Linked DNA regions of Homo sapiens: region 1 is linked to region 2. Evidence: fine-mapped expression QTL. A gene starts in region 2. The other region holds a variant in brackets. All regions are shown on one strand. Distances are between the middles of the regions. Region 1 overlaps KMT5A (lysine methyltransferase 5A). Region 2 holds the start of SBNO1 (strawberry notch homolog 1).

Region 1 (15,983 bases), 38 kb after region 2:
AAAAGTAAAACATTTTTTAAAAAGGTAAGCAGTTTTCCAACACTGTCACTCCACAAGTGTTTTAAGTGACAGATCATTGCAGTGTGTCTCCCGATACCCAGGCCAGTCTGCTGGGGCACCATGCTGAGAACTGCTGTGAACCTGGGGCTTCAACCCCACTAGAAGGGGACCTTCTTTTTCTTCGGAGTCTGAAATGAAGGGTGCCAGGCAGCTCTTGGGGAAGAGTTTCTGCTTTGTCACCTTACTCCTGTCCCCTAATGCTGTCCCAGCCTTCAGGAATGGAGCTTTTGATCTGAGTCTGCAACCTGATTCCTGAAAGCTATTGATCAAGCACCCTGCCAGCGTCTCCGTCTCTGGTGCCTCTCCCTCACAGGCTCTCTATCTCCCACGTCAAGATGCAAAAGCCTAAAACCTCTGCCCAGTGTCTTGGTCAAAAAATCGAGCTGGAGCTAGGCACTCCCCCTGTCATAGCCCATAGCGGACACGGGGCTTAACAGGCCAAGGGCACTCCTGCCTGACAAACCCAGGATCCTGTCTTCTCAAAGCTTGTCTTAGAATGCAGCTGGTCGTCTGGAAATTGAGAGACAGTACAGAATAAACCCGTCTTTCCCCCACCTCCGCCTGCAGAGAAAAGAAATGCTGGGAACGCAGTACGGAGCGCCATGAAGTCCGAGGAACAGAAGATCAAAGACGCCAGGAAAGGTCCCCTGGTACCTTTTCCAAACCAAAAATCTGAAGCAGCAGAACCTCCAAAAACTCCACCCTCATCTTGTGATTCCACCAATGCAGCCATCGCCAAGCAAGCCCTGAAAAAGCCCATCAAGGGCAAACAGGCCCCCCGAAAAAAGTAAGTGCCCCATTCAGTCCTCTTCCTAACGTGGAGCAGTTTGGTTCCTCTGATGCCAGGGAAGCCTGCTCAGGTGCCCATGGGGGTTCAGTGGCCACCTCTCAGCCTCTCTCATGTCAAAGACTCAGATGCCCCGAGTCATCAGCAGGGATGCCACTGTTTGTCAGTTTCTGGATCTGGCATGGGTCCAGAGTTCAAGAGCCTCTCCTTCCTCCCCTCCTTACCCACCCCAGCATAAGCAGCCTTTGTTTTTTAAATTTATTTTTTTTGTTTGTCTTTTTTGGTGATTGGTGTTTTGTGTTTTTTTTTTTTTTTTTTTGAGACAGAGTCTCTTGTTGCCCAGGCTGGAGTGCAATAGTGCGATCTCGGCTCACTGCAAACACCACCTCCTGGGTTCAAGCGATTCCCCTGCCTCAGCCTCCTGAGTAACTGGGATTACAGGTGCATGCCACCATGTCCCGCTTATTTTTGTATTTTTATTAGAGACAGGGTTTCACCATGTTGGTCAGGCTGGTCTCAAACTCCTGACCTCGTGATCTGCCTGCCTCAGCCTCCCAAAGTCCTGGGATTACAGGCGTGAACCACCATGCCCGACTGTTGTGTTTTTTGAGACAGGGTCTTATTCTGTCATCCAGGCTGGAGTGCAGTAGCTCACTGCAGCCTCAACCTCTCAGGACCAAGTGATCCTCCTACTTCAGCCTCCCGAGTAGTTGGGACCATAGGTGTGCACCACCATGCCTGGCTAATTTCTTTCCTTTTTTTAGAGACGGGGTTTTGCTGTGTTGCCTGAGTTGGTCTTGAACTCCTGGGCTCAAGTGATCCTCCCGCCTCAGCCTCCCAGAGTGTTGGCATTACAGGCATGAGGCACTGCGCCCAGCCAGCAGCCCGTCTTTGAAACTCCTCTGAGGCCCTCATGGGCAGGTGACTGAGTGACCTGCAGGCTCCAGTGGACAAAGGTGTTTAAGTGACATCATCTCCAAGGAGCTGTGTGCCTCCTCGGTGTGTGCCTTCTAAGGAGCTGTGTGCCTCCAGGTTTTCAGTCCTGATATTTATTTTCTCCTCTTCCCCTCTTACCCAGAGCTCAAGGAAAAACGCAACAGAATCGCAAACTTACGGATTTCTACCCTGTCCGAAGGAGCTCCAGGAAGAGCAAAGCCGAGCTGCAGGTAGTCACGTGCTTTAAATTCCAGTTTGTGGAGGGGCAGGGTGGCCCACCAAGCAGTGCTTGGCGTGTGCGTATGTGTGTGTCCTCAGCCTTGTTTTCGTCATCTTGGAGCAAGTCTCTTGGCCCCTCTGGACTTGGTTTTCTCCTGGATCTATCGGGGATCCTCACAAAGCTTGTCCTGCCTTTCTGCTGGGGTCACTGCAGGGCTTGGTTAAGACACTTGTGTGAAGGAACCTTGTGACTTGTAGCATGTGGCAGGGAAAGCCAGGTGTGACTCTGAAGGTGGATTTTCCAGGACTTGTTGGCAGAGCCATTGGGAGCCTGGGACTGTGGGAAAGGCTGCCTGTTCTTTCAGAGGCTTTTCTTGTCTGTTTTCTGGAAGTTTCCATGTTGTGGCCCAGGGTGTTAAACAGCAGTGGCTTGGGGCCACTTGCTGGTTGCGTAGCCTTGGGCCAGTCACTTACCCTGTCCATGCCTTGGCTCTCCAGTCTGTAAAATGGTACAATAATGTAGTACCTGCTAGAGCTGTGGTGAGCATTCAATAAATGTGGTCATGCAAGAGGAACCCTTAGAACCATGCTTGGCACTCAGTAAGTGCCAGCTAACTGTTACTATCGCCACCTCTGCTTCCTCAGTGTTGTCACTCCCGTCTGCTCTTTCCCACGCTGCTGCCATACTAGGAGCCTGCAGACCAGTGAGCAGCACCGGCTGGAAGGCCAGCTGGCCTATGCGGGCCTCCGCTGCCATGTTTGCAGAGGGTTGAGCTATGCGGCAGGCAGTCAATATTTGCTGCAGTGAGGTGTGGTTATTGCCTTTCTGTGAAGGAAACGCAGGGCATGGCAGGTCCCTCTGCTCTTCCCCCTCAGGGACACCTGGGGCTGCCCCTCTGCTCTCCCTCACCCCCACAGTGACCACCGGGTTGGGAGAGGTGCTCAGGATTGCATCCTACACAGAGAGGTGGGGACCCCGGCTTTGGCAGTTTCAGCATTTCAGCCCTCATGCGGACTCCTTCAGCGTTCTTGATGTTAAATGCGCAGATACACAGTGGTCTAGTATTCTTTCTCTTTTTCTTTTAATTGATGAAGCTTCATTTAAAAAAAATTTTTAAAAAGGTCCATTTTCTTCCCCACAGAGAGCAGCTTTGGTTTTATTGCCTGAAAAAGGCAATGTCTTTCAGCCAAGAATGAGCTGTTTAAAACATTTGTCAGCAGTGGGAGGCTGTGCTAGGTCACTTTTTTTTTTTTTTTTTTTTGAGATGGAGTTTTGCTCTTGTTGCCCAGGCTGGAGTGCAATGGCGTGATCTCGACTCACCGCAACCTCCATCTCTTGGGTTCAAGTGATTCTCCTGTCTCAGCCTCCTGAGTAGCTGGGACTACAGGCATTCGCCACCACGCCCAGCTAATTTTGTATTTTTTTTTTTTAGTGGAGATTGGATTTGTCCATGTTGGTCAGGCTGGTCTCGAACTCTCGACCTCGGGTGATCCGCCCACCTCAGCCTCCCAAAGTGCTGGGATTACAGACGTGAGCCACCGTGCTCGGCCTGCTAGGTCACTCTTAAAGACAGCACTGGGCCAGGTGCAGTGGCTCACACCTGTAATCCTAGCACTTTGGGAGGCCCAGGTGAGCGGATCATCTGAGGTCAGGAGTTCGAGACCAGCCTGGCCAACATGGTGAAACCTTGTCTCTACTAAAATACAAAAATTAGCCAGGCATGATGGCAGGTGCCTGTAATCCCAGCTACTTGGGAGGCTGAGATGGGAGAATCACTTGAACCCAGGAGACGGTAGTTGCAGTGAGCCGAGATCGCGCCACCGCACTCCATCTTGGGTGGCTGAGCAAGACTCCGTCTCAAAAAAAAAAAAAGACAGCACTGCAGATGGTGAGGTGGTGCCAGACCACAGAATCCCAGACACCTCCCAGCCAGGGTTGGAGCTGCGGTGTGCCCACACACAGGGCCTCTGCTGAGCGTCCACCAAGGGCTGCTGTGGACTTTAGGGTGGGGGGAGCCGAGTTGGCCTTGTTAATAAGAAGCAAGAGTTTGTGCTGGGCAGAGTGAAGGCTGCGATGGGACAGGATGCAGGTCTGCTAAATCTTGCAGCAGATGAGCAGAAGGGAAGAACACACTTGCTTCCCTAAAGCACAGTCTGCAAACACAAGAAAGCTCGCCCTGTTCCTGGACCGGGAGCCGTGCTTTGCCCCCCACTGTTTGTGTTGGCTCTGCTGAGTGCAGCCATGCAAGCTGTTGCTGGCCAGGGCAGGGAGGCCATAGCTGGCCGGGATGACGTGGCTAGAGCTGGTCAGGGTGGAATATTTTCTGACTGCACAGATAAAGCCCAAGAACGGGACAGCTGGGGCTCATCTGAAGGGTGGGGTCAGTCCTGACTTGACTGCCATGCTGGGCCCAGGCTGTGGATCCAGGAGGGTGGGGCATAATACAGCCTGTTGTTGGCCAGATGGTCTGGGGTGAAACTGCAATTCAGAGCCTCTTATATACCTCCACTGAGGCTGAAGACAGCAGCCAGGGCGGGCCTAGCGCCAGGGCGTGGGTCCTGGGCAACAGGGTGGGATCAGGGCTGCTGGATTTGGACACAAGGTGGGCCTTGGAGAGATGCCCTATCCACCAAGTGCTTCACTGCAGGGGCCCCTTGGCCGGCCAGCCTGGCTGTGGGTGGGGTGGCAGCCAGCAGCGGGGCAGGGACCATGCCTCTTGGCAATGGCTGGGCTTCCTCATGCCCAGCTCGGCCCCAGGGCCAGATGTGCAAGCAGCCTGCTGATTCCGCTTGGGAAGGTCCCCTCCTTCCTGGTCACAGGCGCTTCTCAACTGCCCTAGTTCCAACCTTGTATCCCTCCCACTCCATCTCCTTCTAGGCCCATTTGTGGGTTCCTGCCAGAAGTCCCTTTAGAAAACCCAGGGCTGGTTGTTTGCAGGCCCCAAATTCCAGGCCTTTGGGAGACTCAGCCTCCCTGGCTTTGTGCCGGGGCATCTGGCCTGGTCCCAGCTTCCCTCTGCGCATCTCCTACCTGCCGTGTTTGGTCCCAGCAGAAAAACCCCCATTCCACTACCCCGGTCTTTCCATGATCACTCCCGTTTACATGGGCCCCCGTACTTCTCAGCACTCTCTGCACACTTGCAATGAATGGGTCACACAGCAAGGTGGTTATGTGTGTGATGGTGGTGGTGTTGCTTTGAGGGCCTGCTGTGTGCACTGTTCTAGACCAGGAGATTCCACAGTAAACTAGACCAGCCCGTAGGGCTTGTTTTCCAATGGGGAGTAATTAACAACAAAAAAGACACCAGCTACTTGGGAGGCTGAGGTGGGAGGATTACTTGAGAACAGAAGTTCAGTACCAACCTGGGCAACATTGTGAGACCCCATCTTTTGTGGGTTTTTTGTTGTTTTGTTTTTTTCGAGACAGAGTCTCACACTGTCACCTAGGCTGGAGTGCAATGGCGCGATCTTGGCTCACTGCAGCCTCCACCTCCCGGGTTCAAGTGATTCTCCTGCCTCAGTCTCCTGAGTACCTGGGATTACAGGCGCCCACCACCATGCCCAGCTGATTTTGTATTTTTAGTAGAGACAGGGTTTCACTGCGTTGGCCAGGCTGGTCTCAAAATGCCTGACCTCATGATCCACTTGCCTCGGCCTCCCAAAGTGCTGGGATTACAGGCGTGAGCCACTGAGCCCGGCCGTGAGACCCCATCTTAAAAAATAATTAAAAAGGCCTCCCAAGTAGCTGGGACTACAGGCGCCTGCCACCACGCCCGGCTAATTTTTGGTGTTTTTAGTAGAGACGGGGTTTCACCGTGTTAGCCAGGATGGTCTCGATCTCCTGACCTTGTGATCCGCCCGCCTCGGCCTCCCAAAGTGCTGGGATTACAGGCGTGAGCCACCGTGCCCAGCCAAAAAGTTTTTAAAATGTTTTTATTTTGCAATTTTTTTTTTTTTGAGACAGAGTCTCACTCTGTAGCCCGCGCTGGAGTGCAGGTGTGCGATCTCGGCTCACTGCAACCTCCACCTCCCAGGTTCAAGCAATTCTCCTGCCTCAACCTCCCAAGTAGCTGGGATTATAGGCGCTTGCCACCACGCCCAGCTAATTTTTGTGTTTTTAGTAGAGACAGAGTTTCACCATGTTGGTCAGGCTGGCCTCAAACTCCTGACCTTGTGATCCGCCCACCTTGGCCTCCCAAAGTGCTAGGATTACAGATGTGAGCCACCGCGCCTGGCCAATAATTTTAATTTTATAGAAAAGTTGCAAAGATAATACAGAGAGTTCCCCAGACTCCTTACCCATCTTCTCTCACTTAAGTTACTCTGGTGAATTTGTCACAGCTAAGTAACAACCAACATTGGTATATTACTGTTGGTTGAAGTTTTTTTTTTGTTTTTTGTTTTTTGTTTTGAGACAAGGTCTCACTCTGTTGCCCAGGCTGGAGTACAGTGGCATGATTATGGCTTACTAACCTCCGCCTCCTGGCCTGAGACTCCCAAGTAGCTTGGATTACAAGTGTGCACCACTATGCCCGGCTGATTTTTGTATTTTTAGTAGAGACAGGGTTTCGTCATGTTGGCCAGGCTGGTCTCGAACTCCTGACCTCAGGTGATCCACCTGCCTTGGCCTCCCAAACTGCTGGGATTACAGGCATGAGCCACTGTACCTGACCAAGTTTTGTTGTTGTTTTTTTTAAATCTATTCCACCAATATATATCTTTCTTTTTTTTTTTTTTTTTTTTTTGAGATGGAGTCTTGCTCTGTTGCCAAGGCTGGAGTGCAGTGGCGCGATCTTGGCTCACTGCAAGCTCCGCCTCCCGGGCTCACACCATTCTCCTGCCTCAGCCTCCCGAGTAGCTGGGACTACAGGTGCCCACCACCATGCCCGGCTAATTTTTTGTATTTTTAGTAGAGATGGGGTTTCACCATGTTAGCCAGGATGGTCTCGATCTCCTGACTTCGTGATCCGCCCGCCTCGGCCTCCCAAAGTGCTGGGATAACAGG[T/C]GTATATCTTTCTTTTTTTTTTAACCTTCTTGACCCTTATCTTTCATATCTTTTAAGTGGAACATTTTAGTCCATTTATGTTTAAGGTTAATATTGATATGTGAGGTTTTGTTAGGTATATTACTATTAAATAAGTTTATGGGAAGGTTTTTTTTTGTTTTTTGTTTCTTTTTGAGATGGAGTCTTGCTCTGTCTCCCAGGCTGGAGTGCAGTGGTGCGATCTTGGCCTACTGCAAACTCCACCTCCTGGGTTCAAGCGATTCTCCTGCCTCAGCCTCCTGAGTAGCCGGGATTACAGGTGTGTGCCACCACGCCCAGCTAATTTTTGTGTTTTTAGTAGAGACGGGGTTTCGCCATGTTGGCCAGGCTGGTCTCAAACTCGTAACCTCAAGTGATCCACCCACCTCAGCCTCCCAAAGTGCTGGGATGACAGACGTGAGCCACCATGCCTGGTCATGTTTTCTGTTTTTTTTTAAGACAGGGTCTCACTCTGTTGCCCAGGCAGGAGTGCAGTGTCACAGTCATGACTCACTGCAGCCTCAACCTCCTGGGCTCCAGCAATCCTCCTCCTTCCTCAGCCTCTAGAGTAGCTGGGACCAAAGGTGTACGCCACCACACCTAGCTTATTTATTTTTTGTAGGGACAGGGTCTGGATCTGTTGCTTAGGCTGGTCTCTAACTCCTGTCCTTAAGCGATCCTTCCTCCTGGCTTTCCTGAAGTGTTGGGATTACAGGAGAGAGCCACTGCCCCTGGCCTCATTTACATTTTAAAAGACCCCTCTGGCTACCTTGTGGAGAACTGAGTGTTCCCTGGGGTCAGAGTGAAAGCCTGGTGACTAGCAAGGGGGCCGGAGCGGGGCCGGGGCCGTGGCTGGGCTGCAGGGCCGCAGTGGGAATGGAGATGGAGAGGAGGTGGCAGGATTTGGGACTGTCCTTGAGGTTACTCATTCACCATTGTTCCCAGCACAGACTGCAGCGCCTGGCACATTGCAGGTGTGGATTGAGTGCCTGGAAAAGCTGCAAGCTGGTTTGGGCCTCTGTGTAGGGGGAATGGGCTGAGCTCAGCAGTTGGTGTCAGGCTCCTGACACGTGCCATCTGGTTTGGTGAAAGTCTATGCCGTCAAGACATGCTGGTTTGGGGTGAGCCACACTGGTTTGGAGCTTCCGATCTGTCTTCATTTGGTTCCCTTTTGCTCTGTAGTATCTGTGCAGTGGCAGAGCAGTAGAACCCAGGGTTAGGGATGGAGGTAGGTGCAGGAGGGGTGGCCTTAGAGGAGAGGTGGATCCAGGGGTGCCCCCTCCCAGTTCTCTGTTCAGGTCTGTATTGACCCTCGGGATTGGAGGCCCTCTTCTCATCCATCGTGGTGGCCTCCATACAGGTGAATCTCAGCGATCCCAAACAGAAGTATGAGCCATCAGACCAGAGCCATGTGGACTGCGTGTGTCCCATCCAAAGGGCACAGCCTCTGATCTGCTGTACCCGATTTTCTTTTTTCTTTTTAAGGTGGAGTCTTGCTGTGTCGCCCAGGCTGGAGTGCAGTAGCACAATCTTGGCTCACTGCAACCTCCACCTCCCAGGTTCAAGCGATTCTCCTGCCTCAGCCTCCCGAGTAGCTGGGACTACAGGCTCCTACCACACCTGGCTAATTTTTGTATCTTTAATAGAGACAGGGTTTTACCTATTTGCCAGGCTGGTCTCGAACTCGTGACCTTACGATCCGCCCGCCTCGGCCTCCCGAAGTGTTGCGATTACAGGCGTGAGCCACCGCGCCTGGCCCACTGTACCTGATTTTCTGTGAAGTCAGAGGCCTGATTTTCAGGTGTGGGCAAGTTGGACATTTTTTAACGTGCTGCATGGGCAACAGAACATATCTACGAGCCCCATTCTGTTCTTGGGTCCCCACTGTTTCCCTCCTGATCCAGTTGAACCCCAGGTGACAGATCTTCCACAACAGATGGGTGATGAGAAAAGGAGGGATACTTGGGGGCTTTGCCATCACTGGGGACCCATCATCCCCAGTGATGCCAAATGAGGCCGATTGTGGCCCGGTGGGCATGGCCTGGGCAATCAGGGCTCAAGACCATCAAGCTACGCACGATGGGCCTAGGAGAAGATACTGATGCTGTTTTTCTTTCTCTCTGCCCAGTCTGAAGAAAGGAAAAGAATAGATGAATTGATTGAAAGTGGGAAGGAAGAAGGAATGAAGGTAAGGGGCTGCTGTGCTTGCTGCATCATAGCTAAAGCTGGAAGAGCTCACCTTCCCTGGTCCCGTGGCTGAGAGTGGCCACCATGTGGCTTTCACCCTCTAATGGCCATGGTGACCAGGCAGACTCTATTAGGTTGTCAAAGAGCCAAATACCAAAAGTTGTTAAGGAAATGTCTTATGAAGGAAACATAAATGGGCTTTGTATATAAATGTTATCCAGGGGAAGCTTTTCTTAGAAATTGTGGTTAAACAATTCAGTGGCTTTTTGTACATTCACAATGCAATGCAACCATTATCCCTGTCTAATTTCAGAATTTTTTCATCCTCCCAAATGGAAACCCTTACCCATTACTTACCACTGCCCACCATCCCCACCTCTCCCCTGCCCAGCCCCTGGCAGCCACTCAGCTGCTTTCTGTCTCAGTGGAGTTGCTCTTCTGGGCACTTCATATAAATCGGATTATACAATATGTAGCTGATGCCCAGGGAAACTTTTAAAAGGAGAAACTAATACATTTTTAAACTGTTTTCCTAGATAATGACAATGCCCAAGAAATGTGCTTTTCTCTTACTGTATTTCAACCACACTCAGTTTGGGCGAGAGGAGAAGTACTCTCTACAGTGGGGTTCAGATGGGCCTAGACTAGGGCTCCGGGTTCAGAAAGCTTCCACTTCCACCCACCACCTAGGGGGATTCCGGCTTAAGTCCTGGGCCCCTCCAGCAACCCCATTCAACTCCATGTAGAATAGAGTGAGGAGACACAGGAGAGAAATCGTGGAATGAGGTAGAGACCCAGAACACTGGGCCTGCTGTTTGCCTAGGAAGGCATAGCGCATAGCCCCTAGACAGAGAAACCAGGTGTGTGGATTTGAGCTGTGTCACTGTCTAGCTGTGTGGCCTCAGACACGTGGTTGTGCCTCTTTAAGCCTCAGTTTCCTCATCTACAAAATGGGGCAGTCTCCACCTAGCAGATCTCTCACGAGCTCTGATGTAACTGCTTTGCAGATGAGCACCAAGGAACCACGTTTGTGGAGTGAGGGAACGTTCTAGAGCTGGCCTGTAGTGACGGTTGCACAGCTGTATACACTTCATAAAACCCATCAGCCTGTACATGTAAAGTGAGTGAATTTTATGACATGGCTCAGTACAGCTGTTAAAGACTGGGGTAAGCCCCAGCTCCCCGGAGACCTGCTGTGCACAGTGGCATCCATTGCTATTATGAACCAACACCCTCTCTTATCACCTGACAGATTGACCTCATCGATGGCAAAGGCAGGGGTGTGATTGCCACCAAGCAGTTCTCCCGGGGTGACTTTGTGGTGGAATACCACGGGGACCTCATCGAGATCACCGACGCCAAGAAACGGGAGGCTCTGTACGCACAGGACCCTTCCACGGGCTGCTACATGTACTATTTTCAGTATCTGAGCAAAACCTACTGGTGAGTCCACTGTTGCTTAGAGTGGCTTTTCTGTCCTCTGGGCAGTGAGGAGAGGCCAAAGGGCCAGGAACTCCTGATTCTGTTTGGTGGCCAGTCTTTTGGTTTTGTTGTTGTTGACTTTTTTTTTTTTATTTTTTGAGATGGAGTCTTGCTCTGTTGCCCAGGCTGGAGTGCAGTGGTGTGATCTCGGCTCATTGCAACCTCCTCTCAGGCTCAAAGAATTCTCCTCCCTCAGCCTCCAGAGTAGCCCAGCTAATTTTTTTTTTCTGTATTTTTAGTAGAGGTGGAGTTTTGCCACATTGGCCAAGCTGGTCTTGAACTCCTGACCTCAGACGATCCACCCGCCTTGGCCTTCCAAAGTGCTAGGATTACAGGTGTGAGCCACTGCGCTCGGGCTGTTGTTGCCTTTTTTCAAAGCTGTGATGCAATTATCGCCTGCTTCCTTTTTTTTTTTTTTTTTTTTTTTTTTGAATCTCGATCTGTCGCCCAAGCTGGAGTGCAGTGGCACAATCTTGGCTCACTGCAACCTCCACCTCCCGGGTTCAAGGTATTCTGTCTCAGCCTCCCACGTAACTGGGATTACAGGTGTGCGTCACCACGCCCAGCTAATTCTTATATATTTTTTTAGTAGAGACAGGGTTTCATTATGTTGGCCAGGCTGGTCTGACCTCATATGGTCTGCCTGCCTTAGCCTCCCAAAGTTCTGGGATTACAGATGTGAGCCACTGCGCCTGGCCCCAGCTTCCCTTTTTTTTTTTCTTTTGAGACGGAGTCTCGTTCTGTCACCCAGGCTGGAGTGCAGTGGTGCAATCTTGGCTTACTGCAACCTCCACCTCCCAGGTTCAAGCGATTCTCCTGCCTCAGCCTCCTGAGTAGCTGGGACTACACACACATGCCACCATGCCTGGCTAATTTTTTGTATTTTTAGTAGAGATGGAGTTTCACTGTGTTAGCCAGGATGGTCTCAATCTCCTAACCTTGTGACCTGCCCACCTTGGCCTCCCAAAGTGCTGGGATTACAGGCATGAGCCACTGTGGCCCCAGCTTCCCATTTTTAATCTTTGGAATTGGAGCTGTCCTGGATGTTATCTCATCCAAGGGGAGAAGTGGGCTAGTCACATGAAAACCTGTTAAGCAGCTCACCTGGCTCTCCTTCAGGGCATTTGGCCAGAGCAGCTCTGGAAATCACTAATTGATCTTGCCTGGCTAGGACCAGTGGAGTTGAATTTTTTATTTTTTATTTTATTTTATTTTTTTGAGATGGAGTTTCACTCTTGTTGTCCAGGCAGGAGTGCAGTGGCACGATCTTGGCTCACTGCAACTTCCACTTCCGAAGTTTAAGCAATTCTCCTGCCTCAGCCTCCCAAGTAACTGGGATTACAGGCATGCGCCACCACGCCCAGCTAATTTTGTATTTTTAGCACAGACAGCGTTTCACCATGGTGGCCAGGCTGGTTTTGAAATCCTGACCTCAGGTAATCCACCCGCCTCAGCCTCCGAAAGTGCTGGGATTACAGGCGTGAGCCACCGCGCCTGGCGGGGTTGATTTTTTTAATCCATTTATTTTGTGAAACTCTACCATTTCCTCCTGTGCCTCCATAAAGAGCCCTTTGGGTCCTACCCCATCCCCCCACCCAGGGCCTGTGCAGGCTCTCAAAAATAGCTTTGTGGGCCAGGCGTGGTAGCTCATGCCTGTGATCCCAGCACTTTGGGTGGCCGAGGTGGATGGATCATGAAGGTCAGGAGCTCCAGACCAACATGGCAAAACCCCATCTCTACTAAAAATACAAAAAAATTAGCCTGGCATGGTGGCACACGCTTCTAATCCCAGTGACTCAGGAGGCTGAGGCAGAATTGCCTTACCCCGGGAGGCAGAGGTTGCAGTGAGCTGAGATCGTGCCACTGCACTCCAGCCTGGGCGACAGAGCGACGAGACTCCCTCTCAAAAAAAAAAAAAAAAAAAAAAAAGCTTTGCAAATTGAGCCAGACCTGGTGGCTCGTGCTTGTAATCTCAAAAACTCAGGAGGCCAAGGCCAGAGGATCACTTGAGCCCAGGGGTTGGAGACCAGCCTGAGCAATATAGGGAGATCTTGTCTCTACAGAAACAATTAAAAATTAGCCTGATGTGGTGGCATGTACCTGTGGTCAAAGCTACTCGGGAGGCTGAGGTAGGAGGATGACTTGAGCCCGGGAGGTGGAGGCTGCAGTGAGCCGTGATCGTGCCACTGCACTCCAGCCTGGGTTACGGAGCGAGACCCCCTCTAAAAAGGAAAAAGAAAATAGCTTTATGAATTGAATCTTTTCAAAACACATGGCTTTAAATCAGCATCCCACCAGAGCTGAGCACAAGTGTGACTCTCTTCAGGTTGAAAAGCCTCTTTATCCATTTAATCCTCTCTGGCCCTCCTTCCCCTCCAGCGTGGATGCAACTAGAGAGACAAATCGCCTAGGAAGACTGATCAATCACAGCAAATGTGGGAACTGCCAAACCAAACTGCACGACATCGACGGCGTACCTCACCTCATCCTCATCGCCTCCCGAGACATCGCGGCTGGGGAGGAGCTCCTGTATGACTATGGGGACCGCAGCAAGGCTTCCATTGAAGCCCACCCGTGGCTGAAGCATTAACCGGTGGGCCCCGTGCCCTCCCCGCCCCACTTTCCCTTCTTCAAAGGACAAAGTGCCCTCAAAGGGAATTGAATTTTTTTTTTACACACTTAATCTTAGCGGATTACTTCAGATGTTTTTAAAAAGTATATTAAGATGCCTTTTCACTGTAGTATTTAAATATCTGTTACAGGTTTCCAAGGTGGACTTGAACAGATGGCCTTATATTACCAAAACTTTTATATTCTAGTTGTTTTTGTACTTTTTTTGCATACAAGCCGAACGTTTGTGCTTCCCGTGCATGCAGTCAAAGACTCAGCACAGGTTTTAGAGGAAATAGTCAAACATGAACTAGGAAGCCAGGTGAGTCTCCTTTCTCCAGTGGAAGAGCCGGGACCTTCCCCCTGCACCCCCGACATCCAGGGACGGGGTGTGAGGAAGACGCTGCCTCCCAATGGCCTGGACGGGATGTTTCCAAGCTCTTGTTCCCCTAACGTCTCAACAGGCGCTCACTGAAGTGTATGAATATTTTTTAAAAAGGTTTTTGCAGTAAGCTAGTCTTCCCCTCTGCTTTCTCGAAAGCTTACTGAGCCCCGGGCCCCAAGCACGGGCCGGGCATAGATTTCCTCTTCCACAAGCTGCCGCTTTTCTGGGCACCTTGAAGCATCAGGGCGTGAAATCAAACTAGATGTGGGCAGGGAGAGGGTTGCTTACCTGCCCTGCTGGGGCAGGGTTTCCTGAAACTGGGTTAATTCTTTATAGAAATGTGAACACTGAATTTATTTTAAAAAATAATAATAAAAATTTAAAAAAATTAAAAATAAAAAAAACCACAGAAAACAACTTTACATGTATATAGGTCTTGAAGTGAGTGAAGTGGCTGCTTTTTTTTTTTTTTTTTTTTGCTTTTTTTTGCTTTTTGTAGAAGAGATTGAGAATGGTACTCTAATCAAAAATAAAGTTTTGTAGTGGGACCAGAAATTACTTACCTGACATCCACCCCCATTCCCCCTCATCCTGCTGGGGTTGAAAGTTCCAGACCTGCTGTCGAGGCCTTGTGTTTGTCAGACACCCAGTGTCCTCCTGCAAGGACGCAACTGTGAGCTGAGGTGTGAGCCTAGGAGCCCAGGACCCCTGACCCCGGCCGCTGCTGCCAGCCTCAGAAAGGCACCCAGGTGTGCAGGGGAGCACACAGGGCCCGGCAGCCCCCAGGAATCAAGGATAGGGCTAAGGTTTTCACCTTAACTGTGAAGGCAGGAGGAATAGGTGACTGCTTCCTCCCGCCCTTCACAGAACTGATTCTCACACACTGTCCCTTCAGTCCAGGGGGCCGGGGCTCAGGAGCCATGACCTGGTGTCTCCTGCCCACCCTGGTCCCAGGTAAATGTGAATGGAGACAGGTATGAGAGGCTGTCCTCGTCTTTGATTCCCCCCCAACCCCACCTCGGGCCTCACGACGGTGCTACCTAAGAAAGTCTTCCCTCCCACCCCCCGCTAGCCTGGTCAGTGGTCAGCAAATTGGAAGAGGATCCGATGGGAGTGTAAATGTGAGACACAATGTCTTGATTATACCTGTTTGTGGTTTAGCTTTGTATTTAAACAAGGAAATAAACTTGAAAATTATTTGTCATCATAAAAATGAAACAAATTAAAATATTTATTGCCAGGCAAGGCCACGTGTGTGTCTTTCTGTTTTTACAATTTGACTGTGTCACACCAGCATGTCTAAGCTTTGGTAAGCATCCTCCTGGGGAACCAGAAAAGCTTACTGACGTGATTTTGAGCGTGTTTCCCAGAACTCTGAGCTCTTTCGTTTCCTCATCTGTATACTGGGGACCATAGGGTATGTGAAGATTAAAAGTTAATGCTTTTTTTTTTTTTTTTGAGACAGTCTCTGTTACCTAGGCTGGAGTTCAGTGGGGCAGTCTCAGCTCACTGCAACCTCCAACCTCCACCTCCTTGGTTCAAGCAATTCTCGTACCTTGGCTACCTGAATAGCTGGGATTACAGGCATGCACCACCACACCTGGCCTTTTTTTTTTTTTTTTTTTTTTTTTTTTTTGAGATGGAATTTCACTCTGTTGCCCAGGTGGGAGTGCAGTGGCATGATCTGGGCTCACTGCAACCTCTACCTCCCAGGTTCAAGCAATTCTGCCTCAGCCTCCCAAGTAGCTGGGATTACAGGCGCCAGCCACCACACCCAGCTAATTTTTTTGTATTTTTAGTAGAGACGGTCTTTCACCATGTTGACCAGGCTGGTTTCGAACTCCTGACCTCAAGTGATCTGCCCGCCTTGGCCTCCCAAACTGCTAGGATTACAGGCGTGAGCCACTGCACCCGGCCACAGTAGAGACAGGGTTTCACCGTGTTGGCCAGGCTGGTCTCAAACTCCTGACCTTAATGATCCACCCGCCTCGGCCTCCCAAAATGCTGGGATTATAGGCATGAGCCACCACGCCCAGCTTAAAAGTTAATGCATTTTGAGCCTTAGAACAATGGCACATAGTAAGCATCATAAACTTTAGCTGATGTAATTGTCATTGCGACTTATAATTTACTAGACTTGATGATTCTCAGGAGGCTCTGAATCATCACTGCACCTGTCTTGGGCTGGAAGTCCCTATTACCAGCCCAGATCCCTGTCCCCTCCATGCTTGGGCACTGGTGGTAGATTGGAACAGTGAGTAGAGCCCTTGGCTTAGATGCAAAAGATCCAGTTC
Region 2 (15,983 bases):
AATACCTAGGTTCAAATACTGGCTGCATTGCCCACTAGTAGTATGATATGGTCAAGTGAGAACTTCTCTGACTCAGTTTCCTCATCTTAAAATAATACAAATAGAACTTCCTTCATAGGATTACTGTGTGAAGTAAATGTGATACTACCTGGAGTAAATGTTAGCTACTAGCTAGCTACTATCATTTATATATATGTTAGTATTTCATCCAAAAAAGATGTTTACTCCCATATCACTGATTCAGCACTTTATTCCCCAGAATACAAACTTTGTTAGCAATCCATTAAATAATTAACTTTCATACTAGTCTTTGGGTTTGTTTGTTCTTTTGCGATGGAGTCTTGTTCTGTCACCCAAGCTGGAGTGCAATGGCACGATCTCAGCTCACTGCAACCTTGAATCCGCCCCCCTGGGTTCAAGCGATTCTCCTGCCTCAGACTCCAGAGTAGCTGGTATTACAGGCGCGTGCCCCCACACCCAGCTAATTTTTTTGTATTTTTAGTAGACACGGGGTTTTACCATGTTGGCAAGGCTGTTCTCAAACTCCTGACCTCAATTGATCCATCCGCCTCGGCCTCCCACAGTGTTGGGATTACAGGCGTGAGCCACCGTGCCCTGCACATATCAATTATATAAAATACTAGTCCCTTTTTATCTTAAAGTGTTACTGCTACACATCCAACTTGACCAATCAGTTACTAAATTTAGAATAAACTGGTGGACATTTTTAAATGTGCACGGATACTATCACTTAGCAAATATCTTCACCTTAGCTAATAACAAAAAGGATTTTTTTCTCCTTAGAGTGCTAAGCATGTCTGATTCGAGATTCAGCTTTATCTGTGCTTTTATGCAGCTGTGATATGACTGACATTTAGTTTAAGAATTTTAAGATAATGATCCAGTTAGAGATACAGTTCATCAACAAATATTAAGTGTCTACTGTGTGCAGTAGACACTTAAGAACATCAGGAGAAAGAAACAGCAGTTACAAAGAAGTTAGTTTACAAGAATTTCCTTTATCTAAAAGAATGTAATCTGGGCTGAGCATGGTGGCTCATGCCTGTAATTCCAGCACTCTGGGAGGCCGAGGCAGGCAGATCACTTGAGGTCAGGAGTTCGAGACCTGACCAGCCTGGTCAACATAGTGAAACACCATCTCTACTAAAAACACAAAAATTAGCCGGGCATGGTGGCGTGCCTGTAATCCCAGCTACTCCAGAGGCTGAGACAGGAGAACACCGGAACCCAGGGGGTGAAGGTTGCAGTGAGCCGAGACTGCACCACTGCACTCCAGCCTGGGCGACAGAGTGGGACTCCGTCTCAAAACAACAAACAGTCAGGCATGGTGGCTCACGCCTGTAATTCTAGCACTTTGGTAGGCTGAGGCAGGCGGATCACAAGGTCAAGAGATTGAGACCATCCTGGCCAACATGATGAAACCCCATCTCTACGAAAAATACAAAAATTAGCTGGGCATGGTGGCGGGTGCCTGGTGGCGGGTGCCTGTAGTCCCAGCTACTCGGGAGGCTGAGACAGGAGAATAGCTTGAACCCGGAAAGTGGAGGTTACAGTGAGCCGAGGTCGTGCCACTGCACTCCAACCTGGCGAAAGAGGAGACTCCATCTCAGAAACAAACAAAACAACAACAACAAAGAATGCAATCTGTACTTTTCAACACCTACCCTTCATAGGACCTTGCTTGGTAAAGTAACCCCCACTGCAAAACCTGTAGGAAGAAGATATTTACAAAGGAATGTGCAAATTATATACAAAGCCACAAAAGTCCTTTACAAAAGCAATACACAAATAATTGAGTTGGGGGGAATTAAACAACTTTCTTGATTATCACTAGTCAAATTCAGATGGTCAATTGTCTTGATTCTCACTACAGGCTGAGTTTCCCGTATCTGAAACTTGGAACCAGAAGTGACTCAGGGTTTTTTGGATTTTGGAATACCTGTACATACATAATGAGATATCTTAGAGACTGGACCCAAGTCTAAACACAAAATACACTTATGTTTCATATACACCAGATACACATAGCCTGAAGATAGTTTTATACAGTACCTTAAAATGTGCATGAAACAAAGTTTTGACTGCATTTTGGACTGTGATCACTCACGTGAGGTCAAGAGTGGAATTTCCCACTTGTGGCATCATGTCAGTGCTGAAAGTTTCAGATTTTGAACATTTCAGATTTTGAATCTTCAGATTAGGGATGCTCAACCCATATATGGGTGTGTTTTTTTCTTTTAACCTTCAAGATAACCCATGAGTATCAAATGCTACCCATTATCCCTTTGTCACAATTTATAAACCAAGGCTTAGAAAAATGAAATACGGGCCAGGCGCGGTGGCTCATGCCTATAATCCCAGCACTTTGGGAGGCCGAGGCAGGTGGATCATGAGGTCAGGAGATAGAGACCACAGTGAAACCCCGTCTCTACTAAAAATACGAAAAAAATTAGCCGGGCGCGGTGGCAGGCGCCTGTAGTCCCAGCTACTCAGGAGGCTGAGGCAGGAGAATGGCGTGAACCCAGGAGGCAGAGCTTGCAGTGAGCCAAGATCGCGCCACTGCACTCCAGCCAGGGCAACACAGCAAGACTCCGTCTCAAAAAAAAAAAAAAAAAAAAAAAAAGAAGAAGAAAAATGAAATACAACAAAGGGAGCTTGGAATAGAATTACAAATTCAGAAGGTCTGACACCACATCACTCCAAGATCCTGTACTCCCAACCCTGTTCCAGTACTTTTCAAACTACTGATGACAACACATTAGCAGGGTGTCAAATCAATTTGGTGTATCAGGTTTTGTTTTGTTTTGAGATGGACTCTTGCTCTGTCACCCAGGATGGAGGGCAGAGGCGAGATCTTGGCTCACTGGAAGCTCTGCCTCCCGGGTTCAAGTGATTCTCCTGCCTCAGCCTCCCCAGTAGCTGGGATTATAGGCGCCCACCACCATACTCAGCTAATTTTTTTGTATTTTTAGTACAGACAGGGTTTCACCGTGCTAGCCAGGATGGTCTCCATCTCCCGACCTCGTGATCAGCCCGCCTCAGCCTCCCAAAGTGCTGGGATTACAGGAGTGAGCCACCGCACCCAGCCTACTGTATCAGCATTTTAAAATAGCTCAGTATAGGCTGAGTGCGGTGGCTCACTCCTGTAATCCCAGCACTTTGGGAGGCCAAGATGAGATCACTTGAAGCCAGGAGTTCGAGACCAGCCTGGCCAACATATACACTGGCCAACATATACATATATGTCTCTACTAAATACACAAAAAAGGTAGCTGGGCGTGGTGGCACACACTTGTAATCCCAGTTACTTGAGATGCTGAGGTGGGAGAATCACTTGAACCCAGGAGGTGGAGGTTGCCAAGATCGCACTCGTGCACTCCAGACTGGGCAACAGAGGGAGACTCCGTCTCAAAAAAAAAAAAAAGATATATATATAGTTGTATGGGTATATGTATACTAGGTCACAATGTAAACCGCATTTCTTACTGTGGGATGCAATAAAAATATTTGAAAAGCATGACTCTGATCTATATATTGCCTCCCAATAAATAAGTTAATTTGATAGGTTTCATACCATATCTTATTCATAAAAGAGAATTCCTGATCTTTAAGAGCCCATCCTTTCCACTTAAGGAAATTTCAGTGGTATCCCTAAGGTTGTCTTAACACTTGGTGAGTTCAAGCCACAACAAATTGCATCTGTCAATCAGCATATAAAAACAAAGACAACTGCAAAAACTTTAGGATTACATCATTTTAGATAGTTATTAATTGGTATTTAATGCTAAAGTAATTACTCTTAAAAATTATCTTTGGCCAGGCATGGTAGCTCAAGCCTGTAATCCCAGCAGTTTGGGAGGCCAAGCCGGTTGGTCACCTGAGGTCAGGAGTTCGAGACCAGCCTGGCCAACGTGATGAAACCCTGTATCTACTAAAAACACACAAAAAAATTAGCCAGGTATGGTGGTGGGCGCCTGTTAATCCCAGCTACTTGGGAGGCTGAGGCAGGAGAATCGCTTGAATCTGGGAGGCGGAGCTTGCAGGTGAGCCAAGGTTGCACCATTGCACTCCAGCCTCGGTGACAAGAGTGAAACACCATCTCAAAAAAAAAAAAAAATGTATCTTTACACCAACTTTAGAAAGGCAAAGCATGGGAACCCACAGAGCCTCATGGAATGTGAGGTTACTCAGTAGGACTAGCCCTGAGTGTTCTCCATCTTCACAGGTGGCAAGTCACAAATCGAAGCTCAATTTAGATGCTAAGAAATGCCTAAACATATCTGTAGCTAAACTCTGAGGGAAACCACTTTTTTCTTTTGAGACAGAGTCTCGCTGTGTCGCCAAAGCTGGAGTGCAGTGGCGCAATCTCGGCTCACTGCAACCTCTGCCTCCCAGGTTCAAGCGATTCTCCTGCCTAAGCCTCCAGAGTAGCTGGGATTATAGGTGCGGATCACCACGCCCAGCTAATTTTTTGTATTTTTAGTAGACAGGGGTTTCATCGTGTTAGCCAGGATGGTATGGATCTCCTCACCTCGTGATCCACCAGCCTCGGCCCCCTCAAAGTGCTGGGATTACAGGCGTGCACCACCAAGCTTGGCCGAGACAAACCACTTTTTAAAGCATAAAATGAATCTGCATGCTGCCCCTTTTTCAACAGTACTTTCAGTAAGGCACTTAAAACCTACAGGTTGGGCACAGTGGCTCACACGTGTAATCCCAGCATTTTGGGACGCCAAGGCAGGCAGATCACGAGGTCAGGAGATCGAGACCATCCTGGCCAACATGGTGAAGCCCCATCCCTATTAAAAATGCAAAAATTGGCCGGGCACAGTGGCTCACGCCTATAATCCCAGCACTTTGGAAGGCCGAGGCAGGCGGATCACGAGATCAAGAGATTGAAACAATCCTGGTCAAAATGGTAAAACCTCGTCTCTGCTAAAAATACAAAAATTAGCTGGGCGTGGTGGCACATGCCTGTAATCCCAGCTACTTGGGAGGCTAAGGCAGGAGAATTGCTTGAACCTGGGAGGTGGAGGTTGCAGTGAGCAGAGATCACACCACTGCACTCCAGCCTGGGCAACAAAGTGAGACTCCGTCTCAAAAAAATAAAAAATAGAAAGAAGGCTGGGCATGGTGGCTCACGCCTGTAATCCCAGTACTTTGGGAGGCGGAGGTGGGTGGATCATCTCAGGTCGGGAGTTCAAGAACAGCCTGATCAACATGCAGAAACCCCGTCTCTACTAAAAATACAAAGTTAACCAGACGTGGTGGCTCATGCTTGTAATCCCAGCTACTCGGGAGGCTGAGGCAGGAAAATGACTTGAACCCGGGAGGGGGAGGTTGCAGTGGGCCGAGATCGCGCCATTGCACTCCAGCCTGGGCAACAAGAGCAAAACTCCATCTCAAAAAATATTTAAATAAATAAATAAAAGTACAAAAATTAGCTGGGCGTGGTGGCGTGTACCTGTAATCCCAGCTACTCAGGAGGCTGAGGCAGGAGAATCACTTGAACCAAGGAGCGGGAGGTTGCAGTGAGCTCAGATCACCCCACTGCACTCCAGCCTGGTGACAGAGCAAGACAGTCTAAAAAAAAAAAAAAAATACAAAATTGCCTGACATATAACCGCATTCAATGAATGAATGAATGAATAGTAGGCCACTAACTCAGTGTCTCCCCTTCAGCAACTAAAGTGAAGATTTATTTAAGATTCTGAGGCCAGGCGCGGTGGCTCACGCCTGTAATCCCAGCACTTTGGGAGGCCGAGGCAGGCGGATCACCAGGTCAGGAGTTTGAGACCAGCCTGGCCAATATGGTGAAACCCCGTGTCTACTAAAAATACGAAAATTAGCCGGGCATGGTGGCACGCGCCTGTAGTCCCAGCTATTTGGGAGGCTGAGGCAGAATAACCGTTTTAACCCAGGAGGCAGAGGAATGCAGTGAGCCAAGGTTATGACACCGCACTCCAGCCTGGGCGAGAGAGCGAGACTCCACCTCAAAAAAAAAAGATTCTGTTGGGCGTGGTGGCTCACGCCTGCAATCCCAGCACTTTGGGAGGCCGAGGCAAGCGGATCACGAGGTCAGGAGATCGAGACTATCCTGGCTAACATGGTGAAACCCCGTCTCTACTAAAAGTACAAAAAATTAGCCGGGCGTGGCAGCGGGCACCTGTAATCCCAGCTACTTGGGAGGCTGAGGCAGGAGAATGGCGTGAACCCGGGAGGCGGAGCTTGCAGTGAGCAGAGATCGTGCCACTGCACTCCAGCCTGGGCCACTGAGCGAGACTCCGTCTCAAAAAAAAAAAAAAAAAAAAAAAAAAAAAAAAAGGATTCTGACGGGGGGGCCAAGGGCGGTGGCTCACGGCTGTAATTCCAGCACTCCGGGAGACAGAGGTGAGTGGATCACTTGAGGTCACTAGTGTGAGACCAGCCTGGCCGACATGGTGAAACCCCTTTCTGCCAACTACATAAAAAAAAATTAGCCAGGTGTGGTGGCACATGCCTGCAATCCCAGCTACTAGGGAGACTGAGGCAGGAGAATTGTTTGAACCCTGAAGGCAGAGGTTGCAGTGAGCCGAGTTCATACCACTACACTCCAGCCTGGGCAACACAGCAAGACTCCGCCTCAAAAAAAAAAAAAAAAAAAAAAAAGATTCTGAAGGGGCCAGGCACAATGGCTCATGCCTGTAATCCCACCACTTCGGGAAGCGGAGGCCAGAAGATTGCTTGAGGCCAGTAGCTGCCTCCCAACATGGTGAGACCCCCGCCTCTCAACAAAAAAATTAAAAAAAAAAAAATTAGCTGCTGTAGTGGTGCACATCTGTAGTCCCAGCTACTCCGGAGGCTGAAGTGGGACGATCGCTTGAGCCCAGGAGTTCAAGCTGCAGTGAGCTATGACCACGTCACTGCACTTCAGCTTGAGCAACAGAGTGGGACCCTGTCTCAAAAATTTAAAAATAGCATAAATATTCCAAACGCAATTATATGGAATAAGTTGGAATGGAAGATAAAAAGCAGAAGCCAGAGAAAAAAAGTAAAGTCGTCTCCCATCGGAAAAATTTTGGAAACAACTTCTTTAAAAGATGAGAGAAAATGTTCCCTTGCTTGCAAAATTAATGTCCCACTCAAGTCACCAGTAGGAAATTCTGCTATCTTCTGTGCAACGATGATAGCTTTCCCTACGCTTATGAAAATCAATTCTGATTGCTAGAAAATATGGTGGAAAATAGAATCCCTCTGTACTGTCAGCTCGCAGAATTATCTGAAAGTGTTAAGTCAATTCCTGCTAGGGCACTCCGGATGACAGTTCTCTGCACCCTTCTGGATGACTCTTTAGAAACCATATTCCATCCCTAATTCTGGCTGTCTAGAATATATGAAACATTTAACTCAACATAAAATGATAATAGCCAACTTTCAAAGGTCAAAGGGGACCAGTTTATAACCTTCCCTCAACACGTGTTCAGTACAAACTTCCGGGTGCACTTACAATTGGCTGCGCAATTCAATGGATAAAAACGTTGCTTTATTTGTCTCTCATTTTCTGGCCCGTTCTTTTCCCACGTTTCTCAACCAGCGACTCCCCAAAACAAAAGCCTCCCACAGTAAACCGAGCACGCACATAAAAAGAGCTTCTCTGTGCGAGGATCAAGTTAGTGGTCCGCAAACATTAACCAAACAGAAGCACAAAGCAGGGGTGGGAAGGGGAGGAGCTGGATGCCAGGGTCAGGAAAGAAACAATCAGAAGGGTTTAGGAACATCCAAATCTCCTCAGCGGTTAAACCGACCCCAAACCACTTCTGGGAAACCACCGGTATCCACTGCTTTGGGGAACTCTGGATGCTCGTTATGCCAAACGCTCTCAAAGTAAGCAAATCCCCAACTGCCGTTCCCCTCCATGGGTAATTCTTAGGGTCTGGGAGGTGAGCTCGCCCGCCGAGGCAGAACTAAGCGAGTCGCCTGGAGAGGCGTGAAGGGAGCCTGCACGTGTCCCCCGCGGCTTCCCCACCGCCCCAAGAGCGGGGCATGTACGAGACCGCGCTGTGGGGTTCAGATTTAGGAAGGACGACCGCGTCGCCTGCCTCCCTCCCTCGCCCAGAGCCGGGAGCAATGCTGGGGCACGAAAGAGGACTTGGGAAGGATCCGGTCCTTACTTTCCCCGCGGGTCCCGGACCCGCAGCCCCCGGGTTGTGAGGCGGAAGCCAAAGGGGCGAACCCAGCGGAGCCGGCGTGCACAGACCCTGCCCCGCGGTCCAAGAGGGGTGCCTCCGGCCCGGGACAGCGGGGCTCCCGGAGCCCGAAAGCCCCACGAGCGGCGACAGCGGGGCCCGGCGCTGACGAACAGAGGAAGCGAGTACAACGGAGCCGCCGTCGGGAACATGCCCCCGAGGGCCCCGGAGCGCGCGGCCGCGAGGAGCGGCAAGCGGCGAGGGAGGCCCCAAGCCGGGGCGAGGTGGCTGTCCCCCCAGCCTGGCCCCGCACGGCCCCCCGAGGGTGGGAGTGGGAGGCTGTCCGGGAGGGGGAGTGTGGAAGGAGAAAAGGGCCAAGGGAAGGACTTACTTTCCCCGCGGGACCCGGCGCCAGCACAGCTCCTCCCGGGAGGTGTGAGTTTGAAGGACCAGAGGCGACTGGAGCGGAGGCGGCGGTGGCGGCGGCAGCAGCGGCGTCCTGCTCTGCCTACCTCCCCGCCGCCATCTTGACGCCCCTCCCCCAGCCCCCCCGCCCCGCCGGGAGGGGCGGGGGAGGGGCAACGGATGAGGCGCCGCGCGCACGCAGCGCCCTCACGTGACTTCCTCCCTCCTCCCCCACCCGCCTCTCTGCGCCCCTCTCCGCCCCGCCTCCCTCCTAGGTGAAGGAAGATGATTTCCCCCCCATCTTGACCACCCCCCAGTCTTCGCCGCCAAAAACGGACTCCGCCGGCTATCCTCGGCCCGGTACCAGTTGTTGGATCCAAGAGAATTCCGGAACCCAAACGGTCCATTACCGCGGCTCTGGGGTGGGCGAGGGGTGAGGGGGCCGGGTTTCCGCGAAGGGGGAGGGGGAAGGCGAAGGCCACCTAGGAGAGTCACGTGACTACTGTTTCCGCCGGCGCTCACGGAGAGCTCGCGGTAATTCCGTTTCCCCGCCCTTTTTTCCCCGCGGCCTGTCGGGAAGAAGGTCCGCGTGCCAGGGCTATCGGGAGGTCGGCCGGAGGGCCGCGCGCATGCGCCCCGCGCCTGCTTTCAAACTCCGGTTAGGAAGGGCCTGGAGCTATTTTCAGAACCTGTTAGGGTGGGGAGCTACGGCCCAGGAAGTTACCTAGCAGCGTTTCTGTCACTTGGAAGATCTCTTCATTACCTAGTTAGTCCTAGAAACAAAATGTTTACATATTCATTGCTTGTTAGGCTCGCTCAAAGCACTTTATTGGCAGTGAAACCGCAAGTAACCCGGAGCCCTCGGCGCGACCACGGCTAGAATCAGAGCCTAAGGCGTGTGAGCTCAGCCATCCCACGTCTGTCTTCACGCTCATACGCAAGCCCGACACACCGGGGCTCCCACTTAATGAATACTGAAGAGTAGGGCTGTCCCTACCGCTTCTCACTTCCTTGTTTTCATCTTTTCGTTATTATTAAGCGACCTAACACAATAAACATATTACCTTGTTGGTAACCCTTTTGTAAAGTCATTCTGAAAGTGCTGTTTGACTCCGTTGCTTGGGTAATAAGCACGCCTGGGTGATTCTTGCCCCCTACTGGCTGCGCATCCTACAAGCCTAGTGCTGAAAGCAAACCAAGTAGCTGGAACAGTTGGAGGTTACAGTGTGAACTCTTCCAGAGACAAAGTATTCGGGGAAAGAAAGGAAAAAGTAGGCACAGAAAGAATAGGAAACTTCAGTGTTTGTACACATAGATATGTATTATATATCTATGTATACATTTATAAATATTTTTAAAGTGCTAACTAATCGCTTTACTAATTACATTATTTCATTTAATCCTCTCACACACATAGAAAAAAAACCTATAAAGACAAAAATAAAAAATATTTTAGGCCGGGCGCAGTGGCTCACGCCTGTAATCCCAGCACTTCGGGAGGCCGAGGTGGGCGGACCACCTGAGGTCAGGAGTTCGAGACCAGCCTGGCCAACATGGTGAAACCCCATCTCTGCTAAAAATACAAAATTTAGCTGGGGCTTGGTGGCGGGCACCTGTAATCCCAGCTACTCTGGAGGCTGAGGCAGGAGAATCGCTTGAACTCAAGAGACGGAGGTTGCAGTGAGCCGAGATCGTGCCATTGCACTGCAGCCTGGGCGACAGAGCGAGAATCCGACTCAAAAACAAAAAACAAAAAAAACCTTAGGCACAGGCCAGGTGTGGTGGCTCACGCCTGTAATCCCAACACTTTGGGAGGCTGAAACGGGGATCTCAGCCAGGAGTTTGAGACCAGACTTGGGTAACAAAGTGCAACCTCATCTCGACAAAAAAACATTTTTCTTTTTGAGACGGGGTCTCGCTCTGTCGGTCGCCCAGGCTGGAGTGCAGTAGCGCGATCTCGGCTCACTGCAACCTCTGCCTCCTGGGTTCACGCCATTGTCCTGCCTCAGCCTCCCGAGTAGCTAGGACTTTTTTTTTTTTTTTTTTGTATTTTTAGTGGAGACGGGGTTTCACCGTGGTCTCGATCTCCTGACCTCGTGATCCACCCATCTCGGCCTCCCAAAGTGCTGGGATTACAGGCGTGAGCCACCGCGCCCGGCCCAACAAAAAACTTTTAATTAGCCAAGTGTGATATATAGTCCCAGCTACTCAGGAGGCTAAGGTAGGAGAATCACTTGATTGCCCAGAAGTTTGAGGCTACAGTGAGCTATAATCGTGCCACTGCACCAGCCTGGGTAACAAAGCGAAACTATTTTTTTAATTTTTTTTTTTTTTGAGACATAGTTTCACTCTTGTTGCCCAAGCTAGTTTGTTGCAATGGCGGGATCTCAGCTCACTGCAACCTCCGCCTCCTGGGTTCAAGTGATTCTCCTGCCTCAGCCTCCTGAGTAGCTGGGATTACAGGTGCCCACCACCACGCCCGGCTAATTTTTTGTATTTTTAGTAGAAACGGCGTTTCACCATGTTAGCCAGGCTGGTCTCGAACTCCTGACCTCAGGTGATATGCCCGCCTCAGCCTCCCAAAGTGCTGGGATTACATGCGTGAGCCACTGCGTCGGGCCTTATTTATTTATTTATTTATTTATTTATTTATTTATTTATTGAGACGGGGTCTTGCTTTATCTCACCCAGGCTGGAGTGCAGCGGTGCGATCTCGGCTCACTGCAGCCTCTGCTTCCCAGGTTCAAGCAATTCTCCTGTCTCAGCCTCCCGAGTAGCCGGGACTACAGGTGTGTGCCACCACACCCAGCTGATTTTTGTATTTTTAGTAGAGAGGAGGTTTCACCATATTGGCCAGGCTGGTCTCAAACTCCTGACCTCAGGTGATCCGCCCGCCTCAGCCTCCCAAAGTCCTGGTATTACAGGCATGAGTCACTGCGCTTGGCAAAACTCTGTCTGGAAAAAAAAAAAAATTCTTAGGCTTGCAACTGACAGTGATGTTTCCACCACATTCTATTGGTTAACAAGGCAGCCAAATTCAGCTCAGGAAAGGCAACACAAGGGTATGACTAGTGGGAAGTGTTGTTCATTGGACGCTACCAAAGTAAATCATAAGGAATTTTGAGGGTGAGGGACCTTTGGGACATCCTATTGGAGATACTTAGGAAGCAATTGAATCCTACAGCTTGGGGATCCAGATGGGGATTAATGTGAGACGGGATAAAACTATACTAGGAGAGGCTGGACACGGTGGTTCACACATGTGATCCAGGCACTTTGGGAGGCAAAGGTGGGTGGATAACCTGAGGTCAGGAGTTCAAGACCAGCCTTGCCAACATGGTGAAACCCCATCTCTACTGAAAATACAAAAATTAGCCGGATGTGGTGGTAGGCACCTGTAATCTGAGCTACTTGGGAAGCTAAGGCAGGAGAATCGCTTGAACCCAGGAGGTGGAGGTTGCAGTGAGCCGAGATCATGCCACTGCACTCCAGCCTGGGCGACAGAGTGAGACTTCATCTCAAAAAAAAAAAAAAAAATACAACTAGGAGAGAATGCAGAGAGGAGAGCCAGGGGCAGAGCTGAGGTTCTGTGTCTAAGAAGTGAGCACCAGGCCAGGTGTGGTGGCTCACGTCTGTAATCCCAGCACTTTCGGAGGCCAAGGTGGGTGGATCATGAGGTCAGGAGTTTGAGACCAGCCTGGCCAACAAGGTGAAACCCTGTCTCTACTAAAAATACAAAAAATTAGCCGGGTGTGGTGGTGCACACCTGTAATCCCAGCTACTCAGGAGGTTGAGGCAGGAGAATCACTTGAACACAGGTGGCGGAAATTACAGTGAGTGGAGATGGTGCCATTGCACTCCAGCCTGGGCAACAGAGCAAGACTCTGTCTCAGCAACAACAACAAAAAAGAAATGAGCACCAGGCCGGGCACAGTGGCTCACGCCTGTATCCCAGCACTTTGGGAGGCCAAGATGGCAGGATCACGAGGTCAAGAGATCGAGACCATCCTGTCCAACATGGTGAAATCCCGTCTCTACTAAAAATACAAAAATTAGCTGGGTGTGGTGGTGTGTGCCTGTAATCCCAGCTACTCAGGAGGCTGAGGTAGGAGAATCACTTCAACTCAGGAGGTGGAGGTTGCAGTGAGCCAAGATCGAACCACTGCACTCCAGCCTGGTGACAGAGCGAGACTCCTCAAAAAAAAAAAAAGAAAGAAAGAAAGTGAGCACCCAGTGAGCATGAGAAAGGTCAATCAGAGAGGTCAAAGCAGAATCAAGGAGAGATTATATCATGGATGCAAGGGAGTAGTCATCCCAGCAACACTTCTTCACCCTGGCAGCTGCACTTCTATGCAATAGCATCAACTATACCCAGTTTGCAGTTTTCCACACACTCGCTGAATTAGCCTCATCACACCAAATCCTTCCCTGAGACACCAGGAGCAATCAGAGCCCCCATAAAGGTCACCCTCTAATTCAGAGACACTAGCACCAGCGATGTCTAATGCAGCAGAGAGCACCAGTGTGTGGCTGAAGCATCTATTGGATTATTCAAGATGGCAAACACTGTGGTAGACAGTTGTTTTTGACTGCCCAGAATCTATGGTTCTTTCTTCAGAGAGCCGCATCTTAGTTTTATCTCCCTCTCTCAAAGTCCATGTGGTTTGGAGAGCACTAACCATGTCTCATGCACATCACTCCAGATTGAGTGTGCAAGCCAGGTCTAGCTGATTAGAATACTGGATCCACAGCCATAGTGATCCGATTTGGTGCCGGGCCAGTGAGTCGCAGTTCTAATACTTTGCATTGAAAATATCAGGAAAAAGATACTCTCTTGCCTCTGATGTTGCTAAGACAGTGTTGGGAAGTTGGGGCAGAGGCCCTGTGGGGCAGGAGGCCACGCTGATAATGAGATCAACCCAGAAAACAGCAGGGCAAAGGAGTAGGTGGGGTGGGGAGGGACTGGATTCTGATGACATCTGCTGAGTCCTGGGACCCTGTCAAACCTGAAGCGATTTCTAACCCTGAGCTTTTTTGGTTTTTCAGTTTTCTTTTTTTTTTTTTTTTTTCAGACGGAGTCTCACTCCATTGCTCAGACTGAAGTGCAGTGGCATGAACTCAGCTCACTGCAACATCTGCCTCCTGGATTTAAGCAATTCTCTGTCTCAGCCTCCCAAGTAGCTGGGACTACAGGCACCTGCCATCATGCCTGGCTAATTTTTGTATTTTTAGTAGAGACGGGGTTTCACCTTGTTGGTCAGGCAGGAGGTCTCAAACTCCTGACCTCAGGTGATCCACCCACCTCGACCTCCCAAAGTGCTAGGATTACAGGTGTGAGCCACCGCGCCTGGCCCTGGTTTTCTTTTTATAGAGACAAGGTCTCACCATGTTGCCCAGGCTGGTCTCTAACTCCTGGGCTCAAGTGATCCTACTACTCTGGCCTCTGAAAGTGCTGGGATTACAGGTGGGAACCACTGTGCTCAGCCTTAACTTTTTTGATATAAGAGTCAATACAGGGGGGAAGGGGGAGGGGAGGGATAGCATTAGGAGATATACCTAATGTAAATGACGAGTTAATGGGTGCAGCACACCAACATGGAGCATGTATACCTATGTAACAAACCTGCATGTTGTGCACATGTACCCTAGAACTTAAAGTATAGTAAAAAAAAAAAAAAAAGAGTCAATACAAAAATAAAAAGAAAAAACAAGAGTCAATACAGGCTGGGCTGGGCGCAGTGGCTCACACCTGTAATCCCAGCACTTTGGGAGGCCGAGGTGGGTGGATCACCTGAGGTCAGGAATTCAACACCAGCCTGGCCAACATGGTGAAACCCTGTCTCTACTAAAAATACAAAAAATTGGCCGGGCGCAGTGGCTCACGCCTTTAATCCCAGCACTTTGTGAGACTGAGGCGGGTGGATCACGAGGTCAGAAGTTCAAGACCAGCCTGGCCAAGATGGTGAAACCCCGTCTCTACTAAAAATACAAAAATTAGCCAGGCACGATGGCAAGCACCTGTAATCCCAGCTACTCAGGAGGCTGAGGCAGGAGAATCCCTTGAACCCGGCGGGGTGGAGGTTGCAGTGAACCTTGATCACGCCACTGCACTCCAGCCTGGGTGACAGAGTGAGACTCCATCTGAAAAAAAAAAAAAATTAGCTGGGCGTGGTGGTGGGCACCTGTAATCCCAGCTACTCGGGAGGGTGAGGCAGGGGAATCACTTGAACCCAGGAAGTGGAAGCTGCCGTGAGCCGAGATCGTGCCACTGCACTCCAGCCTGGGCTACAGAGGGAGACTCGGTCTCAAAAAAAAAAGAGAGAGAGTCAATACAGGCGAGGCACGGTGGCTCACTCCTGTAATCCCACCACTTTGGGAGGCCAAGGCAGGTGGATCACCTGGGGCTAGGAGTTCGAGACCAACCTGGCCAACATGGTAAAAACCCGTCTCTACTAAAAACCCACACAAAAAAATTAGCTGGGCATGGTGGCAGGCGCCTGTAATCCCAGCTACTCGGGAGGCTGAGGCAGGAGAATCGCTTGAACCCTGGAGGCAGAAGTTGCAGTGAGCTGAGATTGTGCCACTGCACTCCAGCCTGGGTGACAGAGGGAGACTCAGTCTCAAAAAAAAAAAAAACAGACCAGGGGCTGAGTGTGGTGACTCACGCTGGTAATCCCAACACTTCGGGAGGCCAAGGCAGGAGGATTCCTTGAGGCCAGGAATTTAAGACCAGCCTGTGCAACATAGTGAGACCCCATCTCTACAAAGATAAAATCAAGAAAATTAGCTGGGCATGGTGGCACACATGTATGGTCCCAGGTACTCAAGAGGCTGAGGCACAGAATCCCCTGAGCCCAGGAAGTCGATGCTGCAGTGAACCATCTTTGTGCCACTGCATGAACTCCAGCCTGGGTGACAGTGAAATCCTGTCTTGAAGAAATAATAAATAGCTCCCTCTCTCCCCCTCCCCCTCCCCCTCCCTCTCCCTTCTTTCTTCAGTCTCCCTCTGTTGCCGAGGCTGGACTGTACTGCCGTGGTCTCGGCTCGCTGCAGCCTCCCTGCCCCGGGCTCCCGTGGTTCTCCTGCCTTGGCCTGCCGAGTGCCTGAGATTGCGGGCGTGCGCTGCCACGCCTGACTGGTTTTTGTATTTTTGGAGGAGACGGGGTTTCGCCCTGTTGACCGGCCCGGTCTCCAGCTCCTGACCTCGAGTGGTCTGCCCGCCTCAGCCTCCCGGGGTGTTGGGATTGCAGACGGAGTCTCGCTCACTCAATGCTCACTGTTGCCCAGGCTGGAGTGCAGTGGCGTGATCTCGGCTCGCCACAACCTCCACCTTCCAGCCGCCTGCCTTGGCCTCCCAAAGTGCTAAGATTACAGCCTCTGCCCGGCCGCCAC

The links.
Region 1: its variant is fine-mapped to the expression of SBNO1 in whole blood (TOPMed, PIP above 0.99).

What each region holds. Positions count from the first base shown.
Region 1 is chr12:123,394,420-123,410,402 of GRCh38, forward strand. It overlaps KMT5A (lysine methyltransferase 5A), which reads left to right. Exons shown (of 8, transcript NM_020382.7): 4 at 628-847; 5 at 1,926-2,013; 6 at 9,154-9,213; 7 at 10,465-10,655; 8 at 13,074-14,934. The coding sequence ends at 13,284. It also overlaps a transcript of RILPL2 not described here. Among named protein-coding and RNA genes, the nearest start is that of KMT5A, 18 kb to the left of the region's middle. RefSeq lists an enhancer at 7,453-8,216. The variant T/C (reference allele first, on the strand shown) is at 7,008.
Region 2 is chr12:123,356,124-123,372,106 of GRCh38, forward strand. It overlaps SBNO1 (strawberry notch homolog 1), which reads right to left and starts at 8,724. Exons shown (of 32, transcript NM_001167856.3): 1 at 8,578-8,724. MIR8072 (microRNA 8072) reads right to left here and starts at 8,720; the gene lies at 8,641-8,720. It overlaps SBNO1-AS1 (SBNO1 antisense RNA 1), which reads left to right and starts at 8,825. Exons shown (of 2, transcript NR_157806.1): 1 at 8,825-8,992; 2 at 9,402-9,681. RefSeq lists enhancers at 7,390-8,108, 7,765-7,814, 9,275-9,484 and silencers at 8,295-8,404, 8,445-8,524, 8,635-8,874, 9,005-9,104, 14,510-14,683.